Regions from separate parts of the Homo sapiens genome. Here region 2 is linked to region 1. The links come from fine-mapping of genetic effects on gene expression. A gene starts in region 1. The other region holds a variant in brackets. All regions are shown on one strand. Distances are between the middles of the regions. Region 1 holds the start of PVR (PVR cell adhesion molecule). Region 2 overlaps IGSF23 (immunoglobulin superfamily member 23).

Region 1 (15,063 bases):
TTTTGGGTATCAGGATCCTTGCTTTCCTGTCTGTCTGTTTCAACTTTCTCCTTCTTCACCAGATAAAGTAACAGTAACCGACAGCTCTAAGGGGCTCACATGGGCCAGCGGTGAAGCGCCGCTGCCCTAAGGCTGCAGCTTTGGTCTTGGGCAAGTCTGTGCCTCAGTTTCCTTGTCTGTCAACAGGTGATAATGATGGAATCACAGGCAATTAGAATATGCAGGTAAAGCTCTTAGAATGGCACATAATAAGTGCTCAATAAATATTGTTTGGTGGAAAGTGCTGGGGCCCAGCAGTGATCAAAATAGCCCCGGTTCTGCCCTCATGGGTACACAGTCCAAGGGGGCAGACAGACTCTTTCCTAGGCAGTGATGACACTCAGGACAGCTTTCCAAGGGTGATGCTGTTGTCACCAACCCTTTTACAGATGAGGAAAGGAGGGACCCAGAAGAGGCCACCCAGGCCTCCTCCCTTCCTTCCCAGTCCCCTCCCAGCTCCCTTTCCAATATACCCCTCCTCCTCCCTCAGGGCTTTCTGATCCCAGGCTTGGGGGTCCTTACTCCCTGAGATCTCTGCTTTCTTCCTGCCCTGCAGCCCCTCCCCCCACTCACCTCCCCCCACCCCACCCCACATCATTGCGCTGCCCCCTCCTTTTGTCCCCAGGGGATCTGCTGTGGAGGGAATCTCCCTCCCTCCCAGGCCTCCCCGCTCTTTGCCAACTTCCCTGATCCTCCCACCAAGTCTCTGCCTTTCATTCAGCCTCCCCAAAACCCCCTGCTCACCAAGCACTCGGAGCCAGATATCCACGCTCCTGCTGCCCTGCGGGAACGTGACGAACAGGCAGGTGTAGTTGCCTTCATCCTCTACGCGCAACCCGAACATCCTCAGCGAGGCATTCCGCAGCTCCGCGCCCAGTCTGGCTGCCACGAATTCCAGCCGTTTGGACTCCGAATAGCTGGGGCCCTGCGTTTGGTGGAAGACGGCCATGCTGCCAGATTCACCATGCCGCGCCCAAGTCAGCTGTGACACATGCGTCACCTCCATGTTGGGCACCTGTAGGTAGCAGGGCAGCGTCACGGAGTCGCCCAAGAAGCCGGGCACCTGGGTGGGCGCCTGCACGACGACGTCCCCTGCGGAGAACCGAAGAGAAGGTGTCAGACCCGGGGCGTTCTTGGACTAGATAGGGAGGGGCTCCAGGAGCCCGGGCACCTGGGCGTGCACTTGCACGCTGGGGCCCTGGATCCCCGGTGGACCGTGGGGTGTGGGGGGAGGGGGAACTGGGGCACTAGTTGGGGCCATGGCAGGCGAGGAGGGTAAGGGCGTCTGGGATGGTCTGCAACTTGGCCGTGCTCCTTCACTTTGGCTATTTATTACCGTATTTCTTCTATTATTACCGTATTTCCCTGAATCTCAACATCACTGATTTAAAAAATTGTGGTAAATATTGTGGTTAAAAAACTAAATTTACCATTTAAGTCATTTAAAGCATACAGTTCAGTGGCACTATGTACATTTCACGATATTGTGCAACCGTTACTACTATATAGCGCCAGAACTTTTTCTTTTCTTCTCTTTTTTTTTTGAGACGGAGTCTCTCTCTGTCGCCCAGGGGGAGTGCAGTGGCGCGATCTCTGCTCACTGCAAGCTCTGCCTCTGGGGTTCAAGCGGTTCTCCTGCCTCAGCTTTCCGCGTAGCTGGGATGACAGGCTCCCACCACCACACCTGGCTAATTTTTTGTATTTTTGTTTTTAGCAGAGATGGGGTTTCACCATGTTGGCCAGGCTGGTCTTGAACTCCTGACCTCAAGTGATCCTCCCACTACGGCCTCCCAAAGTGCTGGGATTACAGGTATGAGCCACCGCACCTGGCCCAGAACTTTTTCATCGCACCAGTGTCGTAGGTTTCACATACCATGACTGTTGTCATTTATAGCACAACTTGCCATTAGGGGTTAGAATAACCCCAATGTAGAAAACGGGGAGAAATCTTGGGTCTTCAAATCCATGAAACACTGCATTATTACTCTGGGTGGGTCCTGGTTGGAAGAATGTGGGGGATTGAGGCACGAGAGGAAGGCAATTATAGCCCAGGAGTTTTGGGTCCCTTCAGTTTTCTGCTGTGGAGCTTCAGGCCGGTTACTTAACCTCTCTGATTCTTTTTCCTAGTTTGTAAAATGAGACTTAGAACAGTGGACACTCACAGGGTGCTGACACAGATCAGGGGCTATTCTGGGTGCTTCACATATATCTTGGCATTTAATCCTCAAATAGCCCCCCTGAGGCAAGCACTACTGTTAACATCATTTTACAGACAGGGAAACTGACACAGAGTATAGTGTCCTCCAAGTCATACAGAGGTTTAGTGGCAGAGGTGGGATTTGAACTTGGGCGGTCAGAGACTGACCTCTAATCCCCCAGGTCCTATATAAAAATCTTTCTGCTAAGGGCCCTAGCACATAGTAGGTCCTCAAAATGTGACAGCGCTTATTGACACTAATAAACATGGTCCTATGCATTCTTTTTTATTTTTAAATTTTTATTTAGTTAATTATTTTTGTAGAGATGGGGTCTTGCCATATTGCCCAGGCTGGTTTTGAATTCCTAAGCTCAAGTGATCCTCCCACCACAGCCTCCCAAAGTGTTGGGATTACAGGCATGAGCCACTGTGCTTGGCTGCAACCAGCCTGGGCAGCATAGCGAAACCCTGTCTCTACCAAAAATACAAAAAAAATTAGCCAGGTGAGCACCTATAATCCCAGCTACTCCAGAAGCCACAGTGAGAGGATCGCTTGAGCCTGGGAAGTCGAGTTTGCAATGAGCCGGGATTGTACCACTGCACTCCAGCCTGGGCAACAAAGCAAGACCTTGTCTCTCTCATACACACACACACATACACGCACACACGCACTATATATATATATATATATATATATATATACACAAAACATATAAATAAATAATAAAATATGTTATCTATTTACTCTTTAAATGTATAATAAAATATATATTATTTATTATATAAATAATATATGTTATAAATATATAATATATTTAATATATATTTATTAAGAAATATATTATTATATATTATCAATTATATAATACATAATACATATTATATATTATAATAATATATATAATATATAATATACATATTATATATTATAATAATATATATAATATATAATATACATATTATATATTATAATAATATATATAATATATTATAATATATTATATATTACTATAATATATATTATATATTTTATTATATATTATATATTACTATAATATATATTATATATTTTATTATATATTATATATTACTATAATATATATTATATATTTTTATTATATATTACTATAATATGTAATATATAATAATAATATATAATATATATATTTATCAGGAGTTTGAGACCAGCCTGGCCAACATGGTGAAATCCTGTATCTACTAAAAATACAAAAATATTAGCCAGGCATAGTGGCACATGTCTGTAATCCGAGCTACTCGGGAGGCTGAAGCAGGAGAATCGCTTGAACTCGGGAGGAGGAGGCTGCAGTGAGCCGAGAGCAGGACACTGCACTCCAGCCTGGGTGATGGAGTGAGACTGTCTCAAAAAAAAAAAAAAAAGAATGAAAGAATGAATGAATGGCCAGGCCCCTGGAGTCAGACATTGGGGGTCAGAGGGGTAATGGTGTCAAGTGTCACCCACTGTCCTCCTCCCCAACATCAACCATCCCCTCCGTCCAGACCCAGCCTGCCAGCACGCTGCTGGGTTATGGCCTGGGTATGCTGAGCAGGAACCTGGGTAAGGTAATCCGGCATGCGTCACCATCTGCTGATTTTCCGGGATTCACTTGCCTTTTTGGGAAATTTCCTCACCCAACTCCATCCCCTTTCCGAGGGGCCCAGAGGAGGGTCTTGTGCCCGACCCGTGTTGCTGCCAATTTCGAGGAATTTCTGTACCCAACTCCGACCGCTCTCCGGGTGGCCAAGAGGAGGGTCCTGCCCTCGCACCCTCGCACCGTGTTCCTTCCAACCCCGGGGCAGAGATGGGGGGTGGGTGGCGCCGGGCGGGGCCGTCATCTTCGGGAACCCAAGGGGGCGAGTACCCGGCCTGGATGCGGAGCTGGGAGCCAGACAGGGGCCACCGGACTGCGCGGGGGTCACTCACCGGTTCCTGGGGGTGGCCAGGACAGCACCAGTAGCGCCACCAGCAGCAGCGGCCACGCGGCGGCCATGGCTCGGGCCATGCCAGTTGCTCCGAGCAGCTGGGCCTCCCGCGGGCGTCTCCTCGCTTCCCGGCGCCCGCTCGCTCTGCCGCGGTCGCTGCGAGTCCAGCTCCCGGAGCTCAGGTCCTGGAATCCCCGGGGGGCCGCTCCTCCAGTGCCTGGGGTGGGAAGGGGAATACCCACTTCTTCAAGCTCCAGACAAGTGACTGGAGCGGAGGGGAGTTGGCGGCCAGTCCCGCCAGGCGCGGGGTGGGCCACCCAGGCTGGCCCTCCCCGCGCGCCTGCGCCTGCGCAGGTCTCTCCCGGCGCTCAGTCCCGCTGCAGACGCGCGCTCGCTCCGTCGGTGCCCACTAGAAGAGGCGGCTTCCTGTGTGAGGTCGCCCACATTCCAGGTGAGGAAACGGAGGCACACGGAGAGATTCAGCAACTTACTAACGGCTCGCGGTTGCCGAGTGGCAGAGCTGAGGTTCCAACTCGTGATGGGACAGATCCTGAGCCCACCAGGCTGTCCTTCCACGCAGCCTAAACTTCCCATGGGCTTTGGGGTCAGACAAGACCAGGGCTCATGTTGGGCAAGTGGTTTCTCCTCGAGGGCCCTCAGATTCTTTATCTGAAAAATGGGCATAGTAGGGCGCGGTGGCTCAGGCCTGAATTCCAGCATTTTGGGAGGCTGAGGCAGGAGGACTGTGTGAACCCAGGAGTTAGAGGCTTCAGTGAGCTACCATTGCGCCACTACACTACAGCTTGGGTGGCAGAGCCAGACCTGTCTCAAAAAAAAAAAAAAAAGTTTGGGGGCTGGGGGAGCAAGCGCAGTGGCTGACGCCTGTAATCCCAGCACTTTGGGAGGCCGAGGCAGGAGGATCACCAGAGGTCCAGGAGTTCAAGACCAGCCTGGCCAACATGGCAAAAACCCATCTTTACTAAAAATACAAAAATTAGCCGGCATGGTGGCACATGCCTGTAATCCCAGCTACTGGGGAGGCTAAGACAGGAAAATCACTTGTACCCGGGAGGCAGAGGTTGCAGTGAGCCAAGATCGGGCCTCTGCACTCCAGCCTGGGCGACAGAGTGAGACTCTGTCTCAAAAAGAAAGAAAAAAGGGCATACTAACAGTACTTACCTCACAGCGTGGTCTGTAAAACTTAAACAAGAAACTGCCTAGCTCAATTTCGGGGATATAGTTTGTACTAAATAAAAAGCTGATATACCAACAATAGCAGCAGTGGCAGTGACAATTATTATTATTGTTGCTTTACAGTTGGCATCAAATAATAATGTTCATGAGAATGGTCATTCATTCATTCTTCATTCAGCATATATTTATTGATCCAGCCAGTATCCCAGGCACTGGGTATACAGCAGAAAATAAGACAGACAAAAATCTCTGCCTTTAATGAAGACCGTGTTCTAGTGGAGGGAAACAGACCATAAACAGATTAATACCAGAACTCCATCAGGTCTGGGGAAGATAAGGGTTATGGACCAGCCTGCAGTAGGGAGAGGGGAGGAGGGAGGGGGGAGAGAGAAAGAGAGAGAGAGAAAGAGAGAGAGAGAAAGAGAGAGAGAGAGAGAGAGAAATGAGAGAGAAACAGACACACTCAGAGATAAGGGCTGGGAGACAGAGACAGAGAGATTGAAAGAGATAGAGACACAGCATAGACAGAGGGAGATGAGAGAGAAATGAGAGGTGACAGAGAGACTCAGAGAGCCAAACCCTCAGAGACAGAAACTGAGAGACTTCCTGGTCCCCAGAGGTGGCTGTCCTGGCCAGGGTCTCCATGAGGCCGACTAACAGCTCTGGTCCCTGTGCTCTGACATCTTTATATGTTTTTTATTTTTATTATTATTTTTAGACAGGGTCTCACTATTTCACTGAGGCTGGAGTGAAGTGGCGCCATCATTGCTCATTGCAGCCTCCACCTCCTGGGCTCAACTCCTGCCTCAGCCTCCTGGGTAGTTGGGACCACAGGCATATGTGATCACACCCAGCTAGTTTTTAAATTTGTTGTAGAGATAGGATCTCGCTATGTTGCTCAGGCTGGCCTTGAATTCCTGGCCGCAAGCGATCCTCCCACCTCGGCCTCCCAAAGTGCTAGGATTGCAGGCATGAGCCACTGTGCCTGGCCCCACATTCCTGTATCTTTCTGTAAAATCCTTCCTTTGGCTTTTGGCTGGCTTGGAGGTTTCTGTCCCCGGGTGCCCTCTCTAACTTGGATCTGATGCTTGTGTATGACACATCTGATGCTTGGGGTCTCTCACCCTGGATGTATGTAGGTGAATTTCTAAATGGAAACAGGGAGGCTAGTCTCTTGGAAATCTCTGAATTTTCTGTCAGTGTTGTTTTGCTGAGTTATTTCCAAATTGGGAATCTGTGGCCATCGTTATGTTCCTCCTCTGGATGATGCTGTCACCATCTGGGATTCCCCCACTTCTCTGGGCTCCCAAGCTCCTGTGGCTCCAGGGACTCCTCTCAGGGCCCTGGAGGGTCAGAGGCTGCTCCGAAGAAGCAGGCTTAGAAGAAAAAGCAAGTTTGGTTCGGGGCATATCTGCTTGCTTCTGTGTGTTTCTCTGTCAAGAGTCTAAATTCCTTGAGTGTTTGGACCAGTTGTAGACATTTTCTTCACTCAAGTGCTGAAATATCATCTGATAAAATAGTGAATGGAGATCTCCAATGGGCATCTTATTTTTTGTGTGTGTTTGTTTGTTTTGAGACAGTCTTGCTCTGTCTCCCAAGCTGGAGTGCAATGGCGTGATCTCGGCTCACGGCAGCCTCCGCCTCCCAGGCTTAAGTGATTCTTGCGCCTCAGCCTCCCAAGTAGCTGGAATTACAGGCCTGCACCACCATACCCAGCTAATTTTTTTGTGTTTTTAGTAGAGATGGGGTTTCACCATGTTGGCCAGGCTGGTCTCGAACTCCTGAACTTAGGCGATCCACCCTCCTCAGCCTCCCAAAGTGCTGGGATTACAGGCGTGAGCCACCATGCCCAATGGGCATCCTCTTGATGCTGTGGTTTTCAAACTTCTGGATCCAAAAGGATCATCAGGAAGCTTGTGTAATTAAGCAAATATGAATCCATTTCCTTATTCTTCCCTCTCCCATTAAAAAATAAAATGGTAGCATTATTCTGTATCTTTCTGTTTTTCACTTAGCAACATATCTTGGTGATTTTCCCATAGGCAGATATATTGAGCTACCTCATTCATTCATTCACAAATGTGTACTATTCCATTACATGAATGCACCGTCATTTTTGAAACTGTCTTCAGGGGATGGGCTTTTTGGGTGTTTCCAGCCCTTTTGTACTTGCAAACTGTGCTTCCCTGGGTCATCATGTCCATGGCATTTCCCATGTATGTAACAGTATCTGTCATATTTATTCCCAGAAGCTGATTTGCTGGGCCAAAGGCCATGCACATTTGTGGTCTAGAGGATGTTGCCAAATTGCTGTCCAGCACTCATGCCAGCAAAGTAAGGTCGTGGAGTGGCTTCTACCCAGAAATGCTCACGGCAGTCAGGGAAGGTTTAAAATTTTCAGATATGCCCCCACCCCCTGTATTTCTACAAAAAATTAAAAAATTAGCCAGGTGTGGTGGCACATGCCCATAGTCCCAGCTACTTGGGAGGCTGAGGCTGGAGGATCCCTCAAGCCCAGGAGTTTGAGGCTGCCATGAGCCATGATTGCGCCACGGCCCTCCAGCCTCGGTGACAGAGTAAGACTCTGTCCACCCCAAAAAAGAAAATGTCAGATGTGAAGCTTTGTCCAGAAGGGTGTGATGTAGGAGGCCTGGGAGCAGGGGGAGAAAGAAAGACATGGAGAGGAAGAAAAGGAGATTGGGAACGAGGGCTCCAGAGACTCCCTTGGTTCAAATTCTGCTTCCACTAATTGGTAGCTGGGAATCCTAAGCAACTGGTATCGCTTCTCTTGCCTCTTTTTTCTCATCCATAAAATAGGGGGTCATAAAATCATGTGGTGTTAGTTAAATAAGTTATTTAGAAATAAGTTATATGTGGCTGGGCATGGTGGCTCATGCCTGTAATCCCAGCACTTTGGGAGGCTGAGGTGGGTGGATCATTTTGAAGGGGGCCTGCCCCTCCACACCTCTGAGTATTTCTCACAAGGTGGAGACGAGAGACTGAGAAAAGAAATAAGACACAGAGACAAAGTATAGAGGAAGAAAAGTGGGCCCAGGGGACCGGTGCTCAGCAAGTGAGGACCTGCACCGGCACTGGTCTCTGAGTTCCCTCAGTATTTATTGATCACTATCCCTACTATCTCGGTGAGGGGGATGTGGCAGGACTATAGGGTAATGGTGGGGAGAGGGTCAGCAGGAAAACGTGAGCAAAGGACTCGGTGTCATAGATAAATTTAAGGAAAGGAGCTGTGCCTGGATGTGCACGTAGGCCAGATTTATGTTTGACTTTACACAAATATCTCAGTGCAGTAAAGAGCAGTATTGCTGCCAGTGTGTCTCACCTCCAGCCATAAGGCAGTTTTCTCCTATCTCAGTAAATAGAATGTACGATCGGGTTTTACACCGAGATATTCCATTCCCAGGGACGAGCAGCAGACAGATGCCCTCCTCTTATCTCAACTGCAGAGAGGCCTTCCTCTTTCACTAATCCTCCTCAGCACAGACCTTTTATGGGTGTCGGGCTGGGGGACGGTCAGGTCTTTCCCTTCCCACGAGGCCATCTCTCAGGCTGTCTCAGTGGGGGAAATCTTGGACAATACCCAGGTTTTCTTGGGCAGAGGTCCCTGCTGCCTTCCGCAGTGTATGGTGTCCCTGGTTACTTGAGACTGGAGAATGGCAATGACTTTTACCAAGCATACTGCCTGCAAACACATTTTTACCAAAGCACATCCTGCACAGCCCTAAATCCATTAAACCTTGAGTCAATACAGCACACGTTTCTGCGAGCACAGGGTTGGGGCTAGGGTTACAGATTAACAGCATCTCAAGGCAGAAGAATTTTTCTTAGTACAGATCAAAATGGAGTTTCTTATGTCTTCCTTTTTCTACATAGACACAGTAACAGTCTGATCTCTCTTTCTTTCCCCCACACTTTTGAGGTCAGGAGTTCAAGACCAGCCTGGCCAACATGGTGAAACCCCATCTGTACTAAAAACACAAAAATTAGCTGGGTGGTAGTCGTGCACACCTGTAATCCCAGCTACTTGGGAGGCTGAATCACTTGAGGTGGAGGTTACAGTGAGTCAACGTCATGCCACTGCATTCCAGTCTGGGCAACAGAGTGAGACTCTGTCTCAAAAAAAAAAAAAAAAAAAAAAGAAATATATGGTCTAAAAAGTTATTTATTTAACTGCTCAACAAATGGCAGCAATTATTATTGATGTCTCCTGGGGCTTATGATTCTTTATCTGAAAAATGGGCATAGCATGGCACAGTGGCTCAAACCTGAAATCTCAGCACTTTGGCAGGCTGAAGTGGGAGGACTGTTTGAGAAGAACGCATTAAAGCTCTTTGGTGCGATGCCTGACAATTACCACTATGGAGACGTGGCTGCTCTTTAAACAATTTTTAAAATTTTTTTATTTTTGGCAGAGTCTTGCTCTGCTGCCCAGGCTGAAGTACAGTGGCACAATCTTGGTTCACTGCAACCTCTGCCTCCCGGGTTCAAGCGATTCTCATGCTTCAGCCTCCCAAGTAGCTGGGATTACAGGCCCGCACCACCACGCCTGGCTAATTTTTTTTGCATTTTTAGCAGACAAGGTTTCGCCATGTTGGCCAGGCTGGTCTTGAACTCCTGAGCTCAGCTCAGTCAATCCATCTGCCTCGGCCTCCCAAAGTGCTAGGATTACAGCTGTGAGCCACTGTGCCCGGCCAAAAAAATTTTAATTTTTAAATTTTATTTTTCTTAAACACCAACTCCAACCAGAAGACCTGGCTGCTCTTTTATTTATTTATTTTTTTTTTTGAGACGGAGTCTCGCTCTGTTGCCCAGGCTGCAGTGCAGTGGTAACGATCTTGGCTCACTGCAAGCTCCACCTCCCGGGTTCACGCCATTCTTCTGCCTCAGCCTCCCGAGTAGCTGGGACTACAGGCTCCTGCCACCACGCCAGCTAATTTTTTGTATTTTTAGTAGAGACAGGGTTTCACTGTATTAGCCAGGATGGTCTTGATCTCCTGACCTCGTGATCTGCCTGCCTCACCTCCCAAAGTGCTGGGATTACAGGCGTGAGCCACCGTGCCCGGCCATCTGGCTGCTCTTGTTATTAATGATCTTAATGTTGTTCTCTAGTACAGCTGACCCCTCCCTCACCAGGAAGCCCTCCTGGATCCTCCAGTCTCCATTAAGACTCCCCCCTGGCCTCCCAGAGGAGAGTGATGACTCTGGGTCATCACTGGGAACAGGTCTGTCTCCCTCACTGTACTATAAGCCCTAGGAGGGCAGGCCCAGGGCTGCTGTGGTCACCTCTTGAGGCAGGAGAATAGGGAATTAGGGTAACCAAGGGTAAAGCCATAAGCAAAAGAACGCAGGTACACCTAGTTCTAGGCAAGATTAGGCAGCACACAAGCCACATCCCCATTCGTGTGATAACAAGGGACAGGGTTTCACCATGTTGCCATGCTGGTCTTGAATTCCTGACCTCAGGTGATCTGCCCGCCTTGGCCTCCCAAAATGCTGGGATTACAGGCGTGAGTCACCGTGCCTGGCTAACATCTCTTACTTATTTTATTTTATTTTTGAGATACTGTCACTCCCTCACCCAGGCTGGAGCACAGTGGCCATGATCTCGGCTCACTGAAACCTCTGCCTCCTGGGTTCAAGTGGTTCTCCTGCCTGAGCCTCCCCGGTAGCTGGGATTATAGGCATGTGCCCCCACATCCGGCCAATTTTTGTATTTTTAGTAGAGATGGGGTTTCACTATGTTGGCCAGGCTGGTCTTGAACTCCTGACCTCAGGTGAGCCACCTGCCTTGGCCTCCCAAAGTGGTGGGATTACAGGTGTGAGCCACTGCGCCTGGCCTGCTATGACACATTAATCATGTAAGGTAAATAGTCAGTGGCTGGCACATGGAGAGCCCTCAACAGACAAGACTTGGACTCAGTTCTGCTACTATTATTGCTAAGCAGAATGCCATGTTAGGTGGTTCTGTGTTGGTCACAGAAGCACCGAATTTTCCTCAAATGTGAGATATATCCCCCAGAGGAGTTTCAGCCATACTTGTGTGCCCTGTGCCTGCTATCTGTCAGGATCCTCCTATGGAGAGGTATTAAACTTGAACAGTGCAAAGCTCAAAGGTTGATCTTATTTGCAAACATGCCTCTCCCACTCTCAGGAAGAGAGGCTTCATGAGAAACCATTCAGAAGTGGTGGTGTTTTAATTTATTTTTTGGTTCTTTTTGAAAAAGAGAAAAAAAAAGCAGCATGTGTAAAAGACATATTTTGGGGTCTGGCCAATTTCCAAGGTAAAACCTCCCCCCTGTTTTCTGAGCACTGAGCTCCCACAGACAGGGATGAGCCTCTGATGCTTTGCTTGCACAACGTGTCACGGCGATGGGACCAAGGATGGCACCGAGTCAACCCATCAGATGTTTTCTTCAGGTGTTTCAGAAACAGGGCAAAGGGAGTCTGGTTACGTTGGGTTGTTCCCTTGAACAGAGATGTTGTAGACTTGGAAGCTATGGGATGGGTTTTTTTTTCCACGTGGATAGAGAGGTACAAAGCACCCATCTGCAGAGAGAGACAGAGAACTGTAAATTCCACATGCAGGAGGAAAGGAATTGTAAGGGCTTGGGGTGGGGGTGAAGTGTGTGTGTGGGGGAGGCTGGCAGAGAGAGCTGTGTGTACTTCCACATTTCTTCGTAGATTGCAAAAATGGCCACAGATTTTTCCCTTCTTAGCAAGAGGTGGAGTCAACTTCCCCATCCCTTGAATTTGGCCAGTCATGTAACTTTGGCCAATGAAGTCCTTTCTGTGGCAGAAGTGATGGCATGTCCATTTTGAGCTTGAGACTTAAGGGGCCTTGAAGTTTCTGCTGTTACTCTTGGAATCCTGCCTCTGCCATGTGAACAAGCTTGGGTCACCCTGCTGGAGGATGAGAGACAACATGAAGGAGAGGCCAGTTGTCCCAGCTATGAGGCTATCCTAGTCCAGACAGCCCCTGGGCAATCTGTCAACTGACCCCAGATGCAGGAGCGAGCCTGGCAGAGACCAGAACTACCCAGCTGAGCCCAGCCCAAATGGATGACCCATGAAATTGCAAGCTAAATAAATGGCTGTTGTTTCAAGCCAGTGAATTTTGGGGAGGCAGTTTGTTACAAAGCAAATGCTGACTCACACCTATGGATTGCTGAAAAATTTCATAGGTCCTTATATTAAACTGTTCATTTTATTTTTTCCTGAGCTACGTCAGTGAGTTTCTTTTGCATGGAGCCCAAGAGGTTTATGAAATATAGACTGCTTGTTTAGGCAGCTTCCAGGAATTTGATGAGCTGGGCAGATGGGGTGCTGGCAGTTGGCAAAAGAAGAGAAAAGCAGCTCCTGGAGCTCTCCACAGGAGGGGAACATCTCACAGACAAATGACCAGGGAACCAGGAGGGAGGAAATCACATATGGAGTCTCTGCCCAAGAACTTCTTTCTGTTCCCAAACCTAGGATTTCCTTCACACCCTTCCTGGTATTACCTCTTCAGCTGACAGGAGAGTTGCCCACATTTCAGCTGCATATTCCTATTCTCTGCCTGTCAGTCCTGCAGTGGAGAGAGAGAGAGAGACAGAGAGAGAGAGAGAGAGAGAGAGAGAATAAGAATCATCGACTGAATTATTATCCGTTCCCCAAATTAATATGTAGTCCTAACCCTCCAATGTGACTATATTTGGAGATAGATTCTTCAGACACAGTAAGGTTAAATGAGATCATAAGAGTGGGGTCCTGATCCAATAAGACTGGTATCCTTACAAGAAGAGGAAGAGACCCCAGGGATGAGCATAGAGAAAAGGTCACGTGAGGACACAGTGAGAAGGTGGCCTTCTGCAAGCCATGGAGAGGGGCACTATGGGACATCAAACTGGCTGCCACCTTGATCTTGGACTTCCAGCATCCAGACTGTGAGAAAATAAATTTTTGTTGTTTAAGCCCCCCCGGTCTGTAGCATTTTTGTTACAGCAGCTGGAGCAAACTAATACAATCATCATCATCACATGGCTGAGGTTTATTGAAGGCTCATCACATTCCAGGCACTGTTCACAGCTCATGACTCCCACCATTTTACTTAATCCTCACTCCTGTCTTTGGAGGGAAGTATAATCACATCCCTGGGTTTTTTTTTTTTTTTCTTTTTTCTTTTTTTTGGAGACAGTCTGGTTCTGTTGCCCAGGCTGGAGTACAGTGGCGCTATTTTGGCTTACTGCAACTTCCGCCTCCCAGGTTCAAGAGATTCTGTTGGGAACATGCCCCCCAAAATCTGGCCATAAACTGGCCCCAAAACTGGCCATAAATAGTGGCCTGACCCTCCAGTTCTTTCTTTTCTGGAGGACGCTGGGCGAAAAGTAGTTGCCCCAGTGACTGTTCGAGCAGCGCCTGGAGCGACTGCTGTCAGTTCTATTCAGGCAGGAATCCAGCAAGCTAGAAGAGAAGGTGATTTAGAGGCTTGGCAGTTCCCTGTTAGAATACACCCCCCAGATCAACAGGGAAATATTATAGCTACATTTGAGCCTTTTCCTTGTAAATTACTCAAAGAATTTAAACAAGCTATTCATACTAAAAAAGAATGTAGAAATAATCAGCAAGTCAGCTGCCAGATAGGGGAAAAAAGAAAACTGCTGAGTCTGAAATATGTCCAACATGTAAAAAAGGAAAACACTGGGCTAATCAGTGTCACTCTAAGTTTGATAAAGAAGGGAACCTGATTTCAGGAAATGCCATGAGGGGCCTGTCCTGGGCCCCATTCCAAACTGGGGCATTTCCAGCTCAGGCCATTCCCTCACACCCGTACAATGTCTGTCCCCCGCCACAGCCGGTAGTGCCGCAGTAGATTTATGCTGCACAAAAGCTGTGAGCCTTCTGCCTGGGGAACCCCCGTAAAAGGTCCCAACAGGAGTCTGTGGACCCTTGTTAGCGGGGACAATAGGATTACTTTTAGGAAGGTCTAGTTTAAGTTTAAAAGGGGTACAAACACATACAGGAGTCATTGATTCAGATTACAATGAGGAAATTCAAATTGTTACATCTACTTCTGTTCCCTGGAAAGCAGAGCCAGGAGAGCGCACAGCACAGCTCCTGATTGTGCCGTATGTGGGAATGGGGAAAAGTGAAATTAAATGAACAGGAGGATTTGGAAGCACAAAGAAACAAGGCAAAGCAGCTTATTGGGTAAATCAAATTACTGATAAACATTCCACCTGTGAAATAACTATTCAGGGAAAGAAATTTAAAGGCTTGGCAGATACAGGAGCGGACATTTCAATCATTTCTCTACAGCACTGGTCGTCCACGTGGCCAATTCAACCCACTCAATTTAACATAGTTGGAGTTGGTAAAGCCCCTGAAGTATATCAAAGTAGCTATATTTTGCATTTTGAAGGGCCAGATGGACAACTTGGGACTATTCAACCAATTATAACTTCTGTATCTATAACTTTGTGGGGGAAAGATTTATTACAACAATGGGGAGCACAAGTTCTAACTCCAGAACAATTATATATCCTTCAAAATCAACATATGATGCATGAAATGGGGCATGTCCCTAGCATGAGACTAGAAAAAAATTTGCAAGGTTTGAAAGAACCGCTTCAAGCGGAAAGACAAAGTTCCCGCCAAAGATTAGAATATCATTTTTGATGGCAGCCATTGTTAAGCTT
Region 2 (15,679 bases), 19 kb after region 1:
TTGCAGTGAGCCGAGATTGCACCACTGCACTCCAGCCTGGCAATGGAGTGAGACCCCGTCTCAAAAAAAAAAAAAAAAAAAAGAAAGCATATAATAGGTGCTCAATACATGGTAAGATCAAGTTTTTTAAAAACATTATTTTTTTAATTTTTAGAAATAGGGTCTTGCTCTGTCAAGCAGGCTGGAGTGTGGTGGCACGATCATCGCTCGCTGCAGCCTCAAATTCCTGGGCTCAAGCAATCCTCCCACCTCAGCTTCCCAAGTGGTGGGACTATAGGTACGTGCTACCATACTCAGCTAATTAAAAAAAAAAAACTTTAGTTTTGGTAGAGACGGGGTCTCACTATGTTGCCCAGGCCGGTCTCAAACTCCTAGGCTCAAGTGATCCTCCTGCCTTGGCCTTCCAAAGTGCTAGGATTACAGATGTGGGCCACCATGCCTTGCTGATGGTAAGATATTAATAGCGTTGTAGTACTAGCCAACATATAGGATCAAATATAAGTCAGATGCCATCCTTCCCTTGCACTAGACCCTCCATGGCTTCCATCTCACTCAGAGCAAAAGCCAAGTGCTCAGAGAGCCTACAAGGCCTTATGCAAGGGTCTAGCTGCCTTCCCCTGCCTCCCTACTCCCTCTCTGACCCACATGTTACTTCTCTGCCCATTCTTCACACCACTCTGGCCACCCTGGGCTCCTCACTATTTCCTGAACATGCCAGGCAATCCTGCCTCAGGGCCTTTGCACTTGCTGTTCCCTCTGCTGGATATGCCATTCCTTCAGACCCTCACGTGGCTCCCCACTCCCTCCCTTTGTTCAAATGTCACTGTCCCAGGGAGGCCTTCCCTGACTCGTTAAATGCCACCCCACTCCACAATCTTTGTCCTGCTTCCCAGCCTCACTCCTCTCCTTAGCGCTCATCCAACATACTATCTTTTTTAAAAGATTTATTATTATTACTTTTTTGACTCAGGGTCTCACTCTGTGTCCAGTGTGGAGTGCAGTGGCATGATCCTAGCTCACTGCAGTCTAGACTTCCTTGGGCTCAGGTGATCCTCCCATCTCAGCCTCCTGAGTAGCTGGGACTATAAGTGCATGCCACCATGCCTGGCTAATTTTTATATTTTGAGAGAGATGACAAGATGTCTTGTCATGTTGCTCAGGCTGGTTTCAAACTCCTGGGCTCGAGTGATCTACCCACCTCGGCCTCCCAAAGTGCTGGGATTACAGGTGTGAGCCACTACACCTGGCCCATCCAATATACTATCTATATTTCACTCATTCATTGTGTTTCTTGATGGTGTCCCCGACCAGGATGCAAGTTCCATGAGGGCAGGGTCTTTCTGCTGTTTCTTCCCTCGGTATCCTCAGTGCCTGGCACAGAGCGGTCACTGCAGATATGTGTAGAGAGGACGAACATAGTACTTACCACATTCCAGGCACTGCTTTAAGTTTCTTAGAAATATTCACTCACTGGACGGGTGCAGTGGCTCATGCCTGTAATCCCAAAACTTTGGGAAGCTGAGGTAGGCAGATCATGAGGTCAGGAGTTTGAGATCAGCCTGACCAACATGGCGAAACCCTGTCTCTGCTAAATATACAAAAATTAGCCAGGCGTGGTGGTATGCACCTGTAATCCCAGCTACTCAGGAGGCTGAGGCAGGAGAACTGCTTGAACCTGGCAAGCAGAGGTTGCAGTGAGCCGAGATCGCACCACTGCACTCCGGCCTGGGCAACAGAACAAGACTCCATCTCAAAAAAAAAAAAAAAGAAAAAGAAAAATTCACTCACAACAACCCAACCCAACAACCCAGAGAGTCAGATGCTATTATTATCATCCCCATTTTGCAGATGGGCAAACTGAGGCACAGAGAAGGGGAGTGGCTTGCCCACAGCCTCACTGCTAGTAAGTTACAGAGCTGGGACTTGAAGCCAGACAGCCCAGCTCTAGTGTCCTCTTCTATCTCTTTGTTGCTGTGATCCCATTTTGGAAACCAGTGAGTCAGATGGGCTCCTCAGGAGTCGCTATCACCCTCCCTGATGGGGGTGTTGGTTTCATCTCTGTTTCCTTGTTGAGCCAGCTCTGTGCCCCATGGGGGCTGAGTGGATGTTGCCCAGTGGACGGGGGTGAGGGATAGAGGTACCTTAGGCTCTGGATGATGATGAAACACATGCCTGCAATCAGTGCCCCGGCTCCCAGGATCCCAGCCGCAAGGAGCCCGATGGCAGAGCCTCCTGACAGGGACAGAGTGGGGTCTGGCTCCATGGGCTCTGCTTCTGTGGGCTGCATGATGGGTTCTGGGGACCAAGGAGGGGTGAGATTGGAGGAGCCATCTGCCCGCCCTCCCTGTGCACCCCTCCCTCCTGCCATTCCCCCTCCCAAGTGTCTCTTCAATCCATCCTTCTCTTCCATCCTCCAGGTCTCTGGCCCCCTCTCCTCCCTGCTCTCCTGCCCTAGTCCAGCACCCATCCACCTTCCTACCACATGGAAGCCAGGAGGATCTTTCTAAAGCTCACACCTGACCCTGTTCCTCCCCTGCTCAGAACCCTGCTGTGGCTTCCCAGCACCCTGGGGCAGAAGTCAGTTTCTCACCTTAGCCTTCGAGGCCCTGCCACCTGGCCAGCCTCATCTCTCTCATTGCCCTGCCTTTATAGCCATGCAACCCTGGACTCCACTCAATTTTCCAAGCTCATCCCTTTCTTTCTCTCTTGCCTCCAGGCCTGTCCATGCTGCACTGTCTCTCTGGAATGCCATCTCTCTCTCTTGGCTTGCATAATTCCTTTTTTTTTTTTTTTTGAGACAGAGTCTCCCTCTGTCACCAGGCTGGAGTGCAGTGGCACAATCTTAGCTCACTACAACCTCCACCTCCTGGGTTCCAGTAATTCTTGTGTCTCAGCCTCCCTGGTAGCTGGGATTACAGGCACATGCCACCATTCCCAGCTAAATTTTGTATTTTTAGTAGAGATGGGGTTTCACCATCTTCTTCACCATCTACTTCACCATGTTGGCCAGCGTGGTCTCAAACTCCTAGCCTCAAGTGACCCACCCGCCTCAACCTCCCAAAGTGCTGAGATTACAGGAATGAGCCACTGTACCTGGCCAGCTAAGCATAATTCTCAGCTCAGGTGTCCCTTCTTCCAGGAAGCCCTCCTTAACTCCTAGGCTGAGTCTCATAGCTCTCTGGGCTCCCCCATCCCAGCCCTGCCCACTCTGGTGATCACTGTCTGTGGACACTGGACTGTAAGTCTTGTGAAGGCAGGGCTGCAGCTGTCTTGGTCACCAGAGTGTTCCCAGCTGTGTGGGCTGGCCACACAGCAAGTGCTCATAAACATTTCCTGGGCAGTTGATGAATGAGCAAAGGAGGTCTTGGAAGTATTGTCCTTCTCACTGAATATCAGGGTCACTAGGTGATATAAGATTTACATTTTTTCCCCCAGTGCATCAGCCCTGAAGCTCCCACTGGACCCTGGCCAGGGAGGTGAGGTGGTTCTCTGGGACCCAGCCAAGCTGAGATTCCCATCACGCATTCCATTTCCATGTCCCAGCTCTGAACCTTGACTCATGCATTCTTTCCTACCCCAAATACCCTCCCTCTCTTCTCTCCTGGCCAGTTCCTCTGCATACCTCTAGTTCACTCCAAGCCATGGTAGTCCATTTTCATACTGCTATGAAGAAATACCTGAGACTGGGTACTTTATTAAAAAAAAGGAGGTTTAATGGACTCCCAGTTCCACATGGCTGGGGAGGCCTCACAATCATGGCAGAAGGTGAAGGAGGAGCAAGGCATGTCTTACATGGCGGCAGGCAAGAGAATGTGTGCAGGGGAACTGCCTTTTGTAAAACCATCAGAACTCGTGAGACTTATTGACTATCACGAGAACAGCATGGGAAAAACTTGACCCCATGATTCAGTTACCTCCTACCGGGTCCCTCTCATGACACATGGGGATTATGAGAGCTACAATTCAGGATGAGATTTGGGTGGGGACACAGCCAAACCATATCACCATGTGTCCCTCCATGAATAACACACTAAAAACAATATTCACCATAACAGCTGCTATTCAAGGCACCTGCTGCCTGACAGTTGTTCTGCCAAACTCAGTCACCCCTTGTTTTCGTTCCTTATAACAACCCTGAAGAGGTATATAGGATTACCTCCATTATACACATGAGGAAACTGGGGCTCAGAGAGGGGAAGTCACTTGCGCTAAGTTACCCAGCCAGGAAGGCACGGGAACAGGGACTGAACTGAGTTTTGACCAGGTCCCAAACCACTTCTCTGATCTCAACAACTTGCTGTCATTTTGATTGCCACCTAGGGCTCCATATACCGACTGTATATGGTAATAGCTACAATTAATAATGACAATGCTAATTGCAACAGTGTTATTGGCTCACGGTTATTGAGCACTCATTAGTGTTCGATAGTGCTAGACATTATTGTTTTAAGCTATTCACCGGCTTATCTCATTGAATGCTCACAACTACACACTGGGGTAGGCACTATTATCTTCCCAGTGTTATAGATGAGGAAACTGAGGCACAGAGAAGTCAAGGCACTGGCTCAGAGTCACACAGCCAGGGATTCAAATTCCAAAGCCATTGCTTTGAACCACTCCTTAGATGATGACAATGGTGATTTTTTTTTTGAGACAGTCATCCTCTGTCACTCAGGCTGGTGTGCAGTGGTGCGATTACAGCTCACTGTAGCCTTAAACTCCTGGGCTCAAGTGATCCTCCCATTGCAGCTGGGACTACAGGTGGCATTACCATGCCTGATTAAATTTTTAGTTTTTTTTTTTTTTTTTTTTTTTGGTAGAGACAGGGTCTCACTATGTTGTCCAGGTTGGTCTCTAACTCCTGGGCTCAAGTGATCCTCCTGCCTCAGCCTCCCAAAGTGCTGGGGTTACAGGTGTGAGCCACTGCACCTGGCCCACTCCTTAGATTTTGATCTGCATTTTTTGTAGGTATGTGCTGAGACTCAGAGAGGCAAAGAGGCTTCCCATGTTCATGTAACAAGCAAATGGTTGGAGCCAAGGACCCAGGTAGCCTGGTCCAGATCCTAAGCTGGGCTTTCATCATAGTTAACCTCTTTGAGCCTCAGCCTGTCATCTGAAAATGGCCTAATTGGCTGGGCGAGGTGGCTCATGTCTGTAATCCCAGTAGTTTGGGAGGCCAAGGTGGGTGGATCACTCGAGCCCAGGAGTTCGAGACCAGCCTGGACAACACAGTGAAACCCCGTCTCTCCTAAAAATACAAAAATAGGCCAGATGTGGTGGTGCATGCCTGTAATCCCAGCTACTCAGGAGGCTGAGGCATGAGAATCACTTGAACCTGGGAGGCAGAGGTTGCAGTGAGTTGAGATCACAGCACTGTACTCCAGCCTGGGTGACCGAGCAAGACTCTATCAAAAAAAAAAAAAAGAAGAAGAAGAAGTAGAAGAAGGAGAAGGAGAAGAAGAAGGAAGAAGAAGGAGGAGGAGGAGGAGGAAAAGAAGGAGAAGAAAGAAAAAGAAGAAGAAAGAAAAGAAGAAGAAGAGGAAAGAAGAAAGAAGAAGAAAGTGGCCTAATAATCCACAGTCCGCCAGGTGGATGGAACATTGGAATGACATTTTGCCTATAAAGGGTCTCACAGGGGACTGCTCATAGTAGGTGGCTTAATGGAATCATAGAGGCTGCCACAGGCTGGAGAGGGTGCAGGGCTCTTGGGTGGGGTGGGGTGGGGTGGAATGGGGGACTCACTTGGCAGCGAGATGGTTACAGGCTCAGAGACCAGCTGTTTCTTGCTGTTTGTGGCTATGCACATGTAGGTGCCCAGCTGCTCACAGGACAACCGTCGGATGAACAGCTTCTCTCCCATCCCACAGGGCACCCCACTGAAGGTCCAGCTCAGCACAGGCTCAGGGTCCATTGTCACCACCCACTGCAGGATCACAGAATAGTTGAGCTCACTCTGGATGACTCCCCGGATAGCAGCTGGGAATGTCTTCAGTGGCATTAGTTGGAGGCTGTCTGTGCAAACAGGGAACAAGGCCACAAGAGTGGAGTCCACTCAGAAAAGCTGGGCATTTCTTCTGCCCACCATAGAGACATCCATTCTTTCATGTGTTCATTCATTCATTAATTCACCCATGAATGTGTTTGAAGAGCCTGGTCTGTGCCCAGTGCCCCCAGTCCAACCCCTTGCCCTTCCCACTTCCAACGGCCAGCACCTGCATCCCGTTGCCTGAGGACTTTCACTGGTGGCCAAAGCCTACTCTGCCCATGGAGGCAGCAGGCTGGAAGTGCTGGGGAATGAGCACATCAGGGAGCAGCCCTCCACAATGCCAGGACACGTTGGTATATAAATTCCCCAGCTCCCTCTCTGCTATGTGGGATAACTCTGCAGAGTCATTCCACACCAGGGCCTGAGTTCCCCAATGGGACTGTGCTCCAGTTGCCCATGGTAACCAGCTTGGGAACACAGCTTTTATTATTTCCTGCCTTCTCTGCCTAACTTCCCCACTCTCGAGTTCCTTGCACCTCCCAAACAGACTATCTGTCCTTGAATCCTCGCCTCTGGATCTGGGTGAACCAAATCTAGGACTCTAAGGCTCTAGGACTCGGGGGCTCAGCAGTGATTAAACAGACGCTGTTGCTGCCCTCATGAAACTTACGATTGAGTGAGGAGAGGGTCAACAAACTGACAAGTATATATAGTGGTGGTAAGGGCTGTGAGGAAAACTGCACAGGGCTGTGGGGTTGGACTGGGGGTGGGGTAAACCCGTTTCAGGTAAGGTGGGTCAAGGAGGACCTCTTTGGGGAGGTTATGTTTGAGCAGAGTCCTGAAGAAGCAGAGGAATAAGCCATGTGGATTCCTAAGAAAAAAATGTTCCAGGCAGAGGGAACACCAAGTAAAAGGCCCTGAGATGGGTGTGAGCCAAGGTGGGCATAGAGAGGAGGGAAAGGGAGAGAGGGCTGGGAGAAGAAGTCAGAGAGATAATGGGAGCAGATCATGCTGGGGTTTCCTGGGCCAGGGTGAGGACTCTGATTTTGACTCTGAGTGCAGTAGGACCCATGGGAGGACTGCCCAGAGGAGGGACGTGAGCTGGCTTAGGTTTGAACAGGCTCACTCTGGCTATCATGTGAGAACTTGACTTTAAGTTTGGAGGAGTGGAAACAGCCCAGCGAGGAGGTGACCCAAGAGGTCCCCACTTCTTGTCTGCATTTTTCAGGTGAAAGGCTCTGAGGTTTGGGGCTCATTAGGGCCAGGCTTCGTGGTCTAGTAGGGACACATCTGGGATTTGAACTCCCAGACTGTGCTGGGAACTTCCACTTAGAGCTGATTTCTGATTTCAATGCAATGTTATAAGTGAAAAGAACTTTAGCACAACCAGAGACCTCATGAAAGGCTTCCTGGAGGAGGTGTCTGAGTTAAGCCTTGAAGGAGGAGAAAGAGCCCACTAGGTGTACAAACAAGAGGCAATATAACAGCCACCTGGATTGGGCTCTTTTTTTTTTTTTTTTCTTGAAACGGAGTTTTGCTTTTTCATCCAGGCTGGAGCTTGGCTCACTGCAACCTCTGCCCCCTGGGTTCAAGCAATTCTCCTGCCTCTGCCTCTCTATAGCTGGATTATAGGCACCCGCCACCACATCCGGCTAATTTTAGTATTTTTAGTGGAGATGGGGTTTCACCATGTTGGCCAGGCTGGTCTCAAACTCCTGACCTCAGGTGATCCACCCGCCTCGGCCTCCCAAAGTGCTGGGATTACAAGCATGAACCACCATACCCGGCCATGGATTGGGCTCTTACTGTGAGCCAAGCACACGTGTTAATCCATGGCTTGTTATACTGCATGCGAGACCCATGCCCAGGTGTCTAAATCATTAGTAGACTGTGATCAACATTCAAAACATGAAAAGAAATATTATAGAAAACATCAGAGAGCATTACTCATAGTAATAACTGTTACTACACTTGCCTTTTGGTTAGTTGTGGGATATACTGGACATGATGTGAAAAGCATTTCTCATGAAAGCCACTGGATTTATTCATTTAATCCTCACAACAATCCTATGAAGTAATTATTATTATTCCTTTTTTTTTTTGAGACAGGGTCTTGTTCTGTCACTCAGGCTGGAGTGTAGTGGTGCAATCATAGCTTACTGCAACCTCCACCTCCCGGGCTCAAAGTCTCCTCCAGAGTAGTTGGGATTACAGGCGTGCGCCACTACATCCAGCTATTTTTTGTAGAGATGGGGTCTCACCATGTTGCCCAGGCTGGTCTTGAACTCCCGGGCTCAAGTGATCCACCCACCTTGTCCTCCCAAAGTGCTGGGGTTAAAGGTGTAAGCCACCGTGCCGGCCTTATTCCCATTTTGATGAGAAAAGGAAGGCTCAAAGAAGTCAAGTCCTTTGAAACAAACAGGGCTATTTTTTTTTTTTTTTTTTTGAGACAGGGTCTTGCTGTGTCCCCCAGGCTGGAGTGCAGTGGCAAGGTTACAGCTCACTGCAGCCTCAACCTCCCGGGCTCAAGGGATCCTTCCATCTCAGCCTCCTGAGTAGCTGGGACTATGGGCGCACATCACCAGGCTTGGCTAATTTTTAAATTCTTTGTTGAGATGGGCGTCTCATCATGTTGCCCAGGCTGGTCTCGAACTTCTGAGCTCAAGCAATCCTCTCACCTCGGCCTCCCAAACTGCTGGGATTACAGGTGTGAGCCATAGCACCTGGCCAGGGCTAACATTTACTTGCTCTTTGTCAGGCATTGTTGTAGGCATTTAGCACTGATTAACTCACTTACTCCTCACAGTCACCCTATGAGGTAGGTTCCACTATGACCTCATTGCACAGATGGGGAAACTGAAGTGCAAAACAGAAAGTTACTTTTTTGCAGGGACTCAGGGGCATAACAGATGCCAGAGGGATTTGATCCAGGGAGTTCTGGCCACACAGCCTGCACCACCGAGCGTGAGTTCCTGCAACCTCTCTCTTTAGAAAGGGCCCTTCGGACTGAGAATGGCATAGGCGAAGGTGTGGAGCCAGGCCTTTAGAAGAATTAGCCTTCAGGCCGGGCCCGGTGGCTCACGCCTGTAATCCCAGCACTTTGGGAGGCCAAGGCAGGTGGATAACCTGAGGTCAGGAATTTGAGACCAGCCTGGCCAACATGGTGAAACCCTGTCTCTACTAAAAATATAAAAATTAGCCGGGCGTGGTGGCGGGCGCCTGTGATCCCAGCTACTCAGGAGGCTGAGGCAGGAGACTCGCTTGAACCCGGGTGGTGGAGGTTGTAGTGAGCCGAGATCGCACCACTTCACTCCAGCCTGGGCGACAGAGCGAGGCTCCATCTCACACACACACACACACACACACACACACACACACACACACACAAAATTAGTCATCAAATCACAGAAATACAGATGGATGAACCTCAGCGGTCCATAAATTCTCTGGGAGGGGAGTAAAAACCCCTCTGTGCAGAAGTGGGGTTCTAAGTGTGCAGTGGCATGGTCTTGGCTCATTGCAACCTCCGACTCCCAGGTTCAAGCGATTCTACTTCCTCAGTCTCCTGAATAGCTAGGATTACAGGCGCCTGCCACTATGCCCGGCTAATTTTTGTATTTTTAATAAATACGGGGTTTCACCATGTTGGTCAGGCTGGTCTTGAACTCCTGAACTCGTGATCTGCCCGCCTTGGCCTCCCAAAATGCTGGGATTACAGGCGTGAGCCACTGCGCCTGGCCGACACTGGAACTTTTTGAGTCTTTGTTAGAGCATCAGAATCTGAACCCTAACTAAGTTGATCTCTGTTATGAACTGAATTGAGTCCCCCACCAAACATATATGTTGAAACCCTAACCCCCAGTACCTCAGAATGTGACCGTATTTGGAGATAAGGTCTTTAACGAGGTGATTAAGTTAGAATGAAGTTGTTAGGGTGGGTCCTAATCCAACCTGACTGGTGCCCTTATAAGAAGAGGAAGTTTGGACACACAGAGAGACACCAGGGATGTGCACACACAGAAGAAAGACCATGCAAGGACAGAATGAGAAGGCACCCTTCCGCAAGTCAAAAAAGAGAGGCCTCAGAGGAGATGAAACCTGCCAGCAGCTTCATCTTGCAATCCATCCTTCAGAACTGTGAGGGAATAAGTTTCTGTTGATTAAGCCTAGAGTATTTTGCCCGAGCCGACTAGGACAGTCTCTGGACTATCTTCTAAAAGGAGGATGGGTCTGGTTACTCTCAGGGCTTTGTTTTCCTAATTCAGATATGAAAGTTTGAGTCCAGGTGATAAAAATATAGATGAGGTTGAAGGCTGCTACCAGACCTTCTCTACCTTTCCCAAGTGATGATGAATGCGTATCTCATGAATGTCTGTTGCAAGTCTTGGCTGTTATAATGTGGATATTTATCCCTGCCAAAATCTCATGTTGAAATGCGATCCCCAGTGTTGGTGGTGGGGCCTCAGTAAAGGTGTTTGGGCCACAGGGGCGGATCCCTTATGGCTTGACGCTGTCCTCATGGTAGTGAGTTCTCATGAGATCTGATTGTTGTAAAATGTGGCACTTCCTCTCTGACTCTCTCTTTCTCTTGCTCCTGTTCTCACGGGAGACACCTGCTCCTCCTTTGCCTTCGCTATGATTAAAAGCTCCCTGAGGGCTCCTTAGAAGCTGAGCAGATGCTGGCATTACACTTCCACCTGTGGAACCATGAGCCAATCAAACGTCTTCTTCTTTTTTTTTTTTTTTTAAATAAATAACCCAGTCTCAGGTATGTCTTTATAGCAATGGAAGAACAATCTAACACAACGACAAAAAATAGCCACAACACATTGCAACTCCTCTCCTTAAGAGGTGGGGCCTTTTTCCTTCCTGTTGAAGCTGGGCTGGCCATGTGACTTGCTTTGACCAATAGAAGGTGGCAGAAGTGATGGTGGTCAGTTTTGAGCCTGGGCCTGAAGGAGTTTTGCAGCTTTACCTCTTGTTCCTCTTCCATTGCTGAGTGAACAAGCCTGGGATAGCCTGCTGGAGGTTGGGAGGCTATGTGGCCCACTCATCCCCATCACTCCAGCCACCAGCTGGTCCATGGCCAGGCACATGAAGGAGGTCATTCTGGACCAGCCAACACCCAGACACCCCAACAGCTGAACACAACAACTGTCCAGCTAGATAAGTGATTGATGTTTTAAGTTTTGGGGTGGTTTATTGGGGAGCAATGGATAACCAGCATGCAAAGTGTCCTGGTGGGCTCTTCTGAGGTCCAGTGGGTCTGCTTTCTGAGAAGTCAGCCCCTCCCACTGCGGGGCCCCACTCACTCTTGACATGGATCTGCTCCGTCACACTCCTGTGTCCCCTGCTGGTTTCCAGCACGACGGTGTAGCTGCCCGAGTCCTGAGCCGTCATTTTCTAATGACCAGGCTGCCTTGGGTTCCCAGCATCTCCCGGCCAGTGTGAGCAGGTCCTGGGAGGCCCTTCGGGGAGAATATCATGGCTGCTGGCTGGGCGTCATACCCTCAGAACCAAGACGTGGTGAGAATGCCTTCAAGCCTTCCGGGGACAGGAAGATGGACACTGGCTCCTTCGGTCAAGGTGTTCAGCTGTGCCGAGAAGGGCAGCTCTGAGAAGGCAGAGCAGGTGCAGGATGTGAGCAGGGCGCCTTGGAAGAGCAGGGAAGGAGGAGGAATCATTGATTCCTCTCCTTGACCCCTTGAAGCACGCACGTATATTATACTGGATGTTGCAAAAATTGGTTTTCTACCCTTCTCTGCTCCACTCTGCTGCCTGAAAGGCTGACTTCTCTGAGCTGTGTTGTTGGGGTCCCCTTACCTTTTGCTGCTGGTTGGTTTCTGTCAGTGGGCACGTTGGCAGAAGAGGAGAGGGCAGCGGGGGAGTAAGCTTGAAGGGATTAGTCCTACAGTTGGCTGGGTCCTTCTGTTCCAGCCCACAGCTCCTGTTGAGTGTCTCTCTCCATATACTACTAATGTCTTCTGGTTCTGGGATCTGCTT[T/C]GCTCCATTTACTCCTACCCAACCCCTCACCCAACATTTTCTCACCACCTTATTTAGAAATAATAAAGGGTTATAAATCAATGTGAATGGTACATTTTTAAAGGGTGACATAATGTTTGTTCTGGACACTGATTAAGTTATAACCTTGCCACTATTTTTTCTTTTTAAAATTAACAAATACAAATTGTGTATATTTATGGTGTACAATGTGATGTTTTAAAATACATATACATTGTGGAATGGCTAAATTGAGCTAATTAACATATGCATTACCTCATGTACTTATTTTTTTTGTGGTGAGAACACATAAAATCTACTTTCTTAGCCAATAATTTACTCATTTAAAGCGTACAATTCAAGAGCTTTTAGTATACTCACAGAATTGGGCAACCATCACCTCAAGCAATTTAAGGACATTTTCGTCACCCCAAAAAGAATCCCTGCGTCTCTTGGGCACCACACCTAATCCTTTCACTCCTGATAGGCATTTTTTTTTTTTTTTTAATATAAGAGTAGGCCGGTGTGTTGGCTCATACCTGTAATCCTGCACTTTGCGGGGGCGGGGGGAGGGGTGGGGCAAGGCTGGAAGATTACTTGAGCCAGAAGTTCAAGACTAGCCTGGGCAACTGAGTGAGGCCCTGTCTCTACAAAAATAAAAAATTCGCTGGGCATGGTGGCACGCGCCTGTAGTCCCAGCTACTCAGGAGGCTGAGGTGGGAAGATTCCTCAAGTCCAGGAGTTTGAGGTTTCAGTGAGCTATGATCCTGCCACTGCACTGCAGCCTGGGTGACAGAGCAAGACCTTTCTCCCTCTCTCTCTCTCTCTTTTTCTCTCTCTCCCTCTCTCTCTCTACATATATGGTATTACTCATATATACTCATATATATATATTTATTTATTTCCATTTTTATAGCAGAAAACTTAGACTCCTAGAAATAAACACTATGTTTTGGAAACTTTTACTGTTTTTTTTTTTCAAGCTTTATGCTTGTTATTGTTTCTATTTCCTTCTTCTTTTTTTTTTTTTTTTGAGATGGAGTCTCGCTCTGTCGCCAGGCTGGAGTGCAGTGGTGCAATCTCGGCTCACTGCAAGCTCCACCTCCCGGGTTCAAGTGATTCCCCTGCCTCAGCCTCCCGAGTAGTTGGGACTACAGGCGTGCGCCACCACGCCCAGCTAATTTTTTTGTATTTTAGTAGAGACAGGGTTTCACCATGTCGGCCAGGATGGTCTCAATCTCCTGACCTTGTGATCCGCCTGCCTGGGCCTCCCAAAGTGCTGGGATTACAGGTGTGAGCCACCACGCCTGGCTGTTTCTATTTCTTTTAAACAAAAAGTAGAATTATGTTCAGCAATTCTTACAAGGCATCACAAAAAACAACGTCTGCTCCTCATTATAGAATAATTTGGAAAGTAAAGTAAAAAGCAGTAAAACAAATCCTTAAGCCTAATACTCAGATAACCACTTTGGGGAGTATATTTTCTTTGAAGGTTTTTCATAATTTTTAAAATTAATTTTTAATCACTCAAGAGCTTCTCCTTAGGAAAAAAAAGTAGACCCATATAAAGCCAAATATCCCTTTGACCTCCACCCCTACGCTTGTCCTGGTCACACTCTCGAGGTACCTGCTGTTATCAAGAGAACATTTTGTATTTACAGAGTTGAAGTTCGTTGCACTGTGGCTTTGTTTTCCTTTGGACAATGTTTTGTAAGCTCCCCCAGCTCACTTTGCAAACATGTTGTAAACCACTTTCTAAAAACTGGTTGCTGTTTTATCCAGTGGCACAGCCAATTTCCAAAGTACCCCACCCTCCCGCCCCCAGGAAGATCCAGCAACACACAGCATGCCGTGTTTCCATCACAAAACTACAGCAGCCTAGGAGAAACTTTCCAATCTCCTTTTCTTTCCTTCCTCCCCTCTGCCCTCCGCCCTGAGAGAGGCCTCAGACAACAGCTCTGACAAAATAGGGAAGAGGCCCACCACGTCCCTTTCCTCCTTCCAGTGTGACACCTGCCTGAGCTGGGGACAGAGCAAAGCTTTGAACTAGGTGGACTTTGAGGTTTTAAAATTACATGGAACTGAACTTTTTTTTTTTTTTTTTAAAGATGGAGTTTCGCTCTTGTTGCTCAGGCTGGAGTGCAATGGCACCATCTCAGCTAACCGCAACCTCCGCCTCCTGGGTTCAAGCAATTCTCCTGCCTCAGCCTCCCAAGTAGCTGGGATTACAGGCATGCACCACCACGCCCAGCTAATTTTCTGTTTTTAGTAGAGACGGGGTTTCTCCATGTTGGTCAGGCTGGTCTTGAATTCCTGACCTCAGATGATCCGCCCGCCTTGGCCTCCCAAAGTGCTGGGATTACAGCACTTTGTAATCCCAGCCACTGCACCCGTGAGCCACTGCACCCGGCTCAGAACTGAACTTTATTTATTTATTTTTGAGACGGAGTCGTGCTCTGTCGCCCAGGCTGGAGTGCAGTGGCACGATCTTGGCTCACTGCAAGCTCCGCCTCCCGGGTTCACGCCATTCTCCTGCCTCAGCCTTCTGAGTAGCTGGGACTACAGGCGCCCGCCACCAGGCCTGGCTAATTTTTTGTATTTTTAGTAGAGACGGGGTTTCACCGTGTTAGCCAGGATGGTCTCGATCTCCTGACCTCGTGATCCGCCTGCCTCGGCCTCCCAAAGTGCTGGGATTACAGGTGTGAGTCACCGCGCCCAACTCAGAAGTGAACTTTTAAGACCTGGATAAGGAAGCAATTCATTCACTATCTGAGAGGCAGATGTGTGTGGTCTCTGGAAAGTGTGGTCTGGGAAGCCAGCCCATCTGGCTTCAAATCTTCAGTCTGCCACTTCCAAGTGTGTGACCTGGAGAGGGCACATGACCTCTCTGAACCTCAGTTTCCCCTTCTGTGAAATAGGGATCGTACAGCTCTGATCTCAAAGAGTTGTGATAAGAGGTAAATGTTACTATAGGAAAGCACTTAGAACGGGCTGACAGGCTGGGCGCAGTGGCTCACGCCTGTAATCCTGGCACTTGGGGAGGCCGAGGCAGGAGGATCGCTTGAGCCCAGGAGTTCGAGACTAGCCTGGGCAACATAGTAAGACCTCATCTCTACTAAAAATAAAAAATTAGCTGGGTTTGGTGGCGCATACCTATGGTCCCAGCTACGCAGGACGCTGAGGCAGGAGAACAGCTTCAGCCCAGCAGGTTGAAGCTGCAATGAGTCATTATCGGGCCACTGCACTGTAGCCTGGACAACAGAGCAAGACCTTGTCTCAAAACAAAACAAAACAAAAAAACAAAAACCCCAAACAGGCTGGTATATAGATCTATTCAGTTACAGTGACCTTCTATTACGGCTGTTATTATTTTATGATTGTTATTATTTATATGTATTATTACTAAGTTGCGGATTGCAGGGGTGAGACAGGGCATTCTGGTGGAAGGGGGCTGGGCTGGGGTCCCAAATTCTGATCCTGCCCCTTGCCAGCCCTGTGATCTTGGGTAGGTGACCTGTTCTCCTCTTTGCGCCTCACTTCCCTTCTTCCTAAAAGAAGCCAATAGGGTCATCTCTTGTGGCGGAGTGGCCTTCAAGAGTTCTCATGAGTTGGGTGCCTGAGCTGCATGGGCCTCAAACTGACAGGGTCAAAGCTCTGAGTGGGGGTGACTTGGACTCGTAAGGAGACACTCTC

The links. PIP is the estimated chance that this variant, and not a neighbour inherited with it, causes the effect.
Region 2: its variant is fine-mapped to the expression of PVR in tibial nerve (GTEx, PIP above 0.99).

Annotation. Positions count from the first base shown.
Region 1 is chr19:44,633,291-44,648,353 of GRCh38, reverse strand. PVR (PVR cell adhesion molecule) reads right to left here and starts at 4,444. Exons shown (of 8, transcript NM_006505.5): 1 at 4,179-4,444; 2 at 784-1,131. The coding sequence starts at 4,257. IGSF23 (immunoglobulin superfamily member 23) reads right to left here. Exons shown (of 5, transcript NM_001205280.2): 4 at 12,889-12,953; 5 at 11,573-11,935. The coding sequence ends at 12,920. RefSeq lists a silencer at 4,413-4,492 and an enhancer at 11,311-11,605.
Region 2 is chr19:44,614,036-44,629,714 of GRCh38, reverse strand. It overlaps IGSF23 (immunoglobulin superfamily member 23), which reads right to left. Exons shown (of 5, transcript NM_001205280.2): 2 at 5,743-6,008; 3 at 2,142-2,295. Among named protein-coding and RNA genes, the nearest start is that of IGSF23, 8.3 kb to the right of the region's middle. RefSeq lists an enhancer at 14,239-14,740. The variant T/C (reference allele first, on the strand shown) is at 11,990.